Regions from separate parts of the Homo sapiens genome. Here region 1 is linked to region 2. Evidence: fine-mapped expression QTL. A gene starts in region 2. The other region holds a variant in brackets. All regions are shown on one strand. Distances are from middle to middle.

Region 1 (2,910 bases), 150 kb after region 2:
CTTTTGCCTACTATTTAATTGGGTTGTTTGATTTTTTTTGTTGTTAAGTTGCAGCAGTTCTTTGTATATTCTAGATAGTAACCCCTTATCAGAGATATGATTTGCAAATATTTTATTCCATTCCATAAGTTGCCTTTCCATTCTTTTGACTGTGTCCTTTGACAAACATGGTTTTAAGTTTGATGTAGTCTCATTTGTCTATTTTGCTTTTGTTTTCTATGCTTTCGGTGTCATATCCAAGAAAGTACTGCCAAGTCCAATGTCATGAAGCTTTCCCCTTATGTTTTCTTTTAGGTGTTTTAGTTTTAGGTCTTACATTTAGGTCTTTGATCCATTTTGAATTAATTTTTGTATATGGTATCAGATAAGGGTCCAACTTCATTCTTTTGCATGGGGATATTCAGTTTTCCCAGCATCATTTGTTGAAGAGACTGTCTTTTCCTCATTAAATGATCTTGACACCCTTGTCCACATATACTTGCAAGAGTTTGTTTTTGGGCTGTCTATTCTATTCCATTGGTCTATTTGTCTGTCTTTATGCCAGTACCACATTCTTTTGATTACTGTAGCTTTGTAGTAAGTTTTGAAATCGGGAGGTATGAGTCTTCCAACTTTGTTTTTTTTTAAGAAGAGAGATCTGGTTTGGCAGTATTTGTTGTGAAAGGGCCGATGACTTCAAGCTAAGGTTAAGTCAAGAGTATGTTAAGAGGCCAGGCATGGTGTCTCATGCCTGTAATCCCAGCACTTTGGGAGGCCCACGTGGGAGGATTGCTTGAGTCCAGGAGTTAGAGACCAGCCAAGGACCAGAGATCAGTGAGACCCTTACTCTATAAAAACAAAAAAATTCGCTGGGTGTGGTGGTACACACCTGTAGTCCCAACTACTGGGAGGCTGGAGGGCTGAAGCAGGAGGATTGCTTGAGCCCAGGAGTTTGGGGATGCAGTGAACCATGAGCATGCCACTGCATTTCAACCTGCATGACTTAGTGAGACCCTGTCTAGTACAATACAATACAATACAGTACAATACAATACAGTACGATACAATACGATACGATACGATACGATACGATACAATACAGTACAATACAATACAGTACAATACAATACGATACGATACGATACGATACAATACGATACAATGCAATGCAATACAATACAATGCAATACAGTGCATTAAGGTGGCTAAAAGAGTATAGTCTCAGTTTGAATTAATAGAGGCAATGTGTCCTCTCCAGGGGAGGGCAGTCCTGTTCTAGTCTGTGCTGATTCAAGCATATCCAGAGAACAGTGTTCAGAACCAGGATCTGTTTTATCGCGTGTGCTTGTGTGGAGGTCTCTGAACATGCTTGGAGGAGGGTGGCTAACACTGGGAGCCATCTGGAAACCATTTCATATGGGATAGAGTCAAGGGGCCTGGGGCTGTTTGGTGCGATGAAAAGAAAATGTAGAGGAACCCTGAGAGTAATTTTCAAATCTATGTGAAGGGCTGTCATGAGGACAAGGAAGCAGATTTGTTCTAGAAGCTGGGTCCAGGGGTGGAAGTGGATGTTGTTCTGCACGAGGCAGGCTTCCTAGACACGAGCTGGCTGCTGAAGGGTGGGCTGCTGTGCTTGTCACCTCATTCCTGGAAGAGTTCAGGGAGGGGCTGAATCCGCATCTGCCAGAACTGCGTGCTGGAGCTGT[C/T]GTCGGGAGCCAGGGTCTGATAGCCTCGGGGTGCTTTTACATGCAGAGCCTCCGACAAGGGAGCCGTGGAGGACTTGCGAGTAGGGAAGAAGCCGACCCAAGCGGTGTTTCGGATGGTTAATCTGCTCACAGACACACGCAACTGGCAGCTGGTGGGTGCCTGGAAGTCCCCTAGCCTGAGCCTCAGTGTTGGAAGCCATCCCCTCTAGCAAAGTGGTTCCAGTGAGCTGTGTAACAAAATATTTACCAGACCCCAGATTCTGGCCCACATTTCAGAGTCAAATTTGGAACAATAAAAATCGACAAATCGCTTTGGAAGTGATGTCTGATTTGTAAAGAGACACAGGAGGTTTATCCCTGGGCAAAACCAGAGGTGCCGAGGAGCCCGTTCTCCCCTGGGCTGCCCCCACCCAGCCATCGCCCGCTGAGCAATGACTCATTTCCCCCTTTGAAGTCCACGTAGTTGTCTTTGGGGCCCTGGTGTTTGTACCCCTCTGCTCCTTCAACAAAGGCCCTTCTGTCGGCCGATCGCGGAGGCCAAGCAGGGAAGGGTTAGAAAGGAAGGTATCGACTGAATACCAATAAGGAGGGGAAGTGTGTTTATGGAGAATGAGGGGCTCCAGGCAACTTGGGGGCCCACTCGTGCTGTGCAAACACAGCGGAGAATTCCCTTTGGCGGGTTTGTTTTACTAAAGGCTCTGGGGCCCAAGGAGGGCGGTGGGAGGGGAACAGGAGAGAGGGAGGAAATATTTCACAATTCGAAGTTGAAGCTTAGCCCCTTGTTGGGGAGGGGCCGGCCTGAGAGCTGCAGGGTAACAAAGAGGCAGTGTGGGCTGGTGACAGTTAGGGGAAAACACATGGCAACTAATGGGGTAGTAATGGGTAGGGAGGTAACCTGGGAAAAGCTGGTACGAGGAACGCTGGCACATAAATTCTGGTGGCGAGACACCCGCCTTGGCAGGGAGACAGGGGCCACTCTTTCACCCTCCCCATGGTCAGAGCCAGAGATGTTCCCACTCCCAGGAACATGGTCAGGGTGAGGGATGGCGGGAAGAGGAAAAGCCATGCTGGGGTTTCATCACCCTGCAAGGCCCCTGGAAAGACAGAGAGGAAGAGGGGAGCTTCAGGCTAAGTGCCAGAAATCAGCACAAAGCAGAGGCTTCTGTTGCTGCTGCCTACCCCATTCATAGTGAGGGGCGATGGGCACCTTGCTGAGACCCCGTGG
Region 2 (2,910 bases):
AGGATCAATACAGAAATTCCCGAGAAAAGTCCAGCATAGGAAAACAATATGGAAAAACAAAAAACAACAATGCTCAAAATTTACAATGTTCTCACATATGTTGCCTCAGTTAATCCCTAGGAGAAGTGTGTGCCGCAGGGAGGACAAGGATAATTATGGTTATTCCTACCATTGAGGATTAAAGTTTAGTTTGGGACAAAGTCATGCAGCTTTTGGTTCCATGGTTCATATCACAAGGCAAACTCTGTGGGTTCTCTGGGAAGTTGGAAGGGAGTGAATGTATTGAAGCAGAAATGACCGACTCCAGCCTGGCCAACAGGGTGAAACCCCATCTCTACAAAAAGTACAAAAATTTGCCCTGTGTGTTGGTATGCTGCAATATTGTACTGTGCTCCAGCATGGGAGACAGAGGGAGACCTTATCTCAAAAAAAAAAAAAAAAGAAAGAAATAAAGGAAGAAAGAAATGACCTATGGCTAGGGCTATGCTGAGTATCTGAAGAAAGAAGGCTTTGAACTATACGTTTAAAAGCAAGTACTTCTAGGTTGCCACTCCCTGCCTGCACTTGAGGGATTTATCTCTGGGTCAAGACAGAGAACGAGTCTTGCATTAAATTACATTAAATTAAATGAATTAATTTATGGCTGGGTGCAGTGCCTCATGCCTGTAATCCCAGCACTTTGGGAGGCTGACATAGGAGGATTGCTTGAGCTCAGGGGTTCGAGACCAGCCTGGGCAACATGGTGAAACCCTGTCTCAACAGAAAAAAAAAATTAAAAAAATTGTAAAAAAAAATTATTTATTTTCAACTTTTATTTTAAATTTAGGGGGTACATGAGTTGGTTTGTTATCTGGGTATATTGTGTGATGCTGAGATATAGGGTACGGAGTCTTGCATTTTAGAAAGTGATGAGTCACTTTCAAAGTTGACAGTTCTATAATTCCCTGATTTACATATCAGGACAAAATTTGAGCATAGGCTGGTGATTTCTGACTTGAACCTAAAGGTCTGTGGAATCGGAAGGGTTCATCAAAATGAGAAACTACAACTCCCGGCAGGCCTCGGGGCTGGGTCTTCTTCCCCGCCCCTCCCTCTTTTTCCGCCAGGGCTGGGAACGACCAATGACGGTTAGTCATTTGAATAGACCAATAATATATTAAACGGTTCAGGTTGAGGAGGGGCGGTCGAGTCATCCAATCGCACGGAAGAGGTGAAAACATATTAGCCAATCCAAATATGTGGGGGCGGGACGTAAGGTGGGGCGGTGAAAGAAGTTTGCTGACGAAGATGGCGACTGAGGCACAGAGTGAAGGGGAGGTGCCAGCCCGCGAATCCGGCCGGAGGTGAGCTGAGTTTGGTCCAGTTTCCTGGGAAACGCGGCCTTGGGCTGGTAGTCCTGCCGCCTTTGCCTTGGGTCACGGAGGCGCACGGTTCGGGCTTTGTTTCTTTCTCCCACGGCGTTTCTCATCGTCGCGCCTGCGGGGGCTGAGGCGCGGGGGTCGGGCCTGGGCGCTGGACTCCAGCCAAACCCCCCGCTCGGTCCTGCCGGTGCCCGAGGGGGCTCCTCCCGCTGCGCTGGCTGCAGACGTCCAGCTGGGGGTGGCAGCGCTGATCGCTTTGGCGCCGAGACACCTCTTGATGGCGAGGAAACGGAAGTCCAGGGCTGGTTAGCGAATTCCTCACTGTTGCACACAGCGCTTCACATCTTCTCCGAGGCACTTTGTGCGTTCAGGTCCGAGCAAGGATTTGAGTGTCAATTAGAAACAGTGTTGAGTCCTTGGGCCAGTTTTTAAACCTCTCTCGACTTCAGTTTCTTCATCTGCAAAGGGACGTGAGGATGCCTATTTCCAAGTGTCAAGATTGAATAAGACAATCCATTTAAAGCTAGCACTGAGTTTAGCCGATAATGACAACTCTACGCAATAGATTTTCTTCTTCCTAGTAGAACAGCTAAGGAGCAGATGGGAGAGGGATCTGTAGTCCAGGACATCATGACTTTATTTCCACAGGATGTTCTTTCCTAAACAGCCACACCGAGATTTAGCGTTTTCAGGAGAGAATTTCGAGGTGGTGTTGCCTTAGCCTTGAGACCTAAGTTGTCTTAATTGATTACAATTTTGTTTTTGGTGTAATTCAATAGATTGAGTTTATTTACGTTGCCTCAGTGTAACTCAGTAAAATACTTCGGTTTGGCGTCTTTTGGTTCCATTTGTACCGAATAAGAGATTCCAAGAATCTTGGGAAACTAATAACTTTGTGACTCGGCTTCTTCCTGAGCCCAGATGAGCGTGGTTGAGTGTGTTATTTAAAATATCATACGGGGCCGGGCATGGTGGCTTACGCCTGTAATCCCAGCACTTTGGGAAGCCGAGGGGAGCGGATCACCTGAGATCAGGAGTTCGAGACCAGCCTGGCGAACATGATGAAAGCCCGTCTCTACTAAAAATACAATAATTAGCCGGGTGTGGTGGCGGGCGCCTGTAGTCCCAGCTACTCAGGAGGTTGAGGCGGAGGTTGCAGTGAGCCCAGATGCGCCATTGCATTCCACCCTGGGTGACAGAGCAAGACTATGTCTCAAATAAATAAATAAAATAAAATATGATATGGAAGAGTTTTCCACTCTTTTTTGTTTTGTTTTGTTTTTGTTTTGCAGTTGCAAGATTTCATAGAGTGAAATAGAGTGAAAACACAGCTCCCACACAAAGGGAGGGGACCCAAAGTGGGTGGCCGTTGCTGGCTCTAATGCCTGGGTTTATATCCTGATCCTTGTCCCTCCCGCTGTGCTCTCAGGCAAGAGATGATTGGCTATTTCTTTACCTCCTGTTTTTGCCTAATTAGCATTTTAGTGAGCTCTCTGATTGGTTGGGTGTGAGCTAAGTTGCAAGCCCCGTGTTTAAAGGTGGATGCGGT

Alleles and levels. Alleles are on the strand shown, and positions count from the first base shown. SD is a standard deviation of normalised expression in the study named.
In carriers of allele T in region 1, the expression in anterior cingulate cortex of the gene that starts at base 1,242 in region 2 tends to be lower than with C alone (moderate effect, 0.61 SD a copy in GTEx).

Evidence for each region. PIP is the estimated chance that this variant, and not a neighbour inherited with it, causes the effect.
Region 1: its variant is fine-mapped to the expression of ARHGAP19-SLIT1 in anterior cingulate cortex (GTEx, PIP 0.99). The same link has a PIP of 0.9 or more in prefrontal cortex.

What each region holds. Positions count from the first base shown.
Region 1 is chr10:97,139,901-97,142,810 of GRCh38, reverse strand. The region is part of intron 4 of SLIT1 (slit guidance ligand 1); the gene reads left to right. Among named protein-coding and RNA genes, the nearest start is that of SLIT1-AS1, 39 kb to the right of the region's middle. RefSeq lists an enhancer at 1,226-1,966. The variant C/T (reference allele first, on the strand shown) is at 1,686.
Region 2 is chr10:97,291,005-97,293,914 of GRCh38, reverse strand. ARHGAP19-SLIT1 (ARHGAP19-SLIT1 readthrough (NMD candidate)) reads left to right here and starts at 1,242. Exons shown (of 15, transcript NR_037909.1): 1 at 1,242-1,343. It overlaps ARHGAP19 (Rho GTPase activating protein 19), which reads left to right and starts at 1,278. Exons shown (of 12, transcript NM_032900.6): 1 at 1,278-1,343. The coding sequence starts at 1,288. RefSeq lists a silencer at 1,557-1,606 and enhancers at 951-1,707, 1,708-2,466.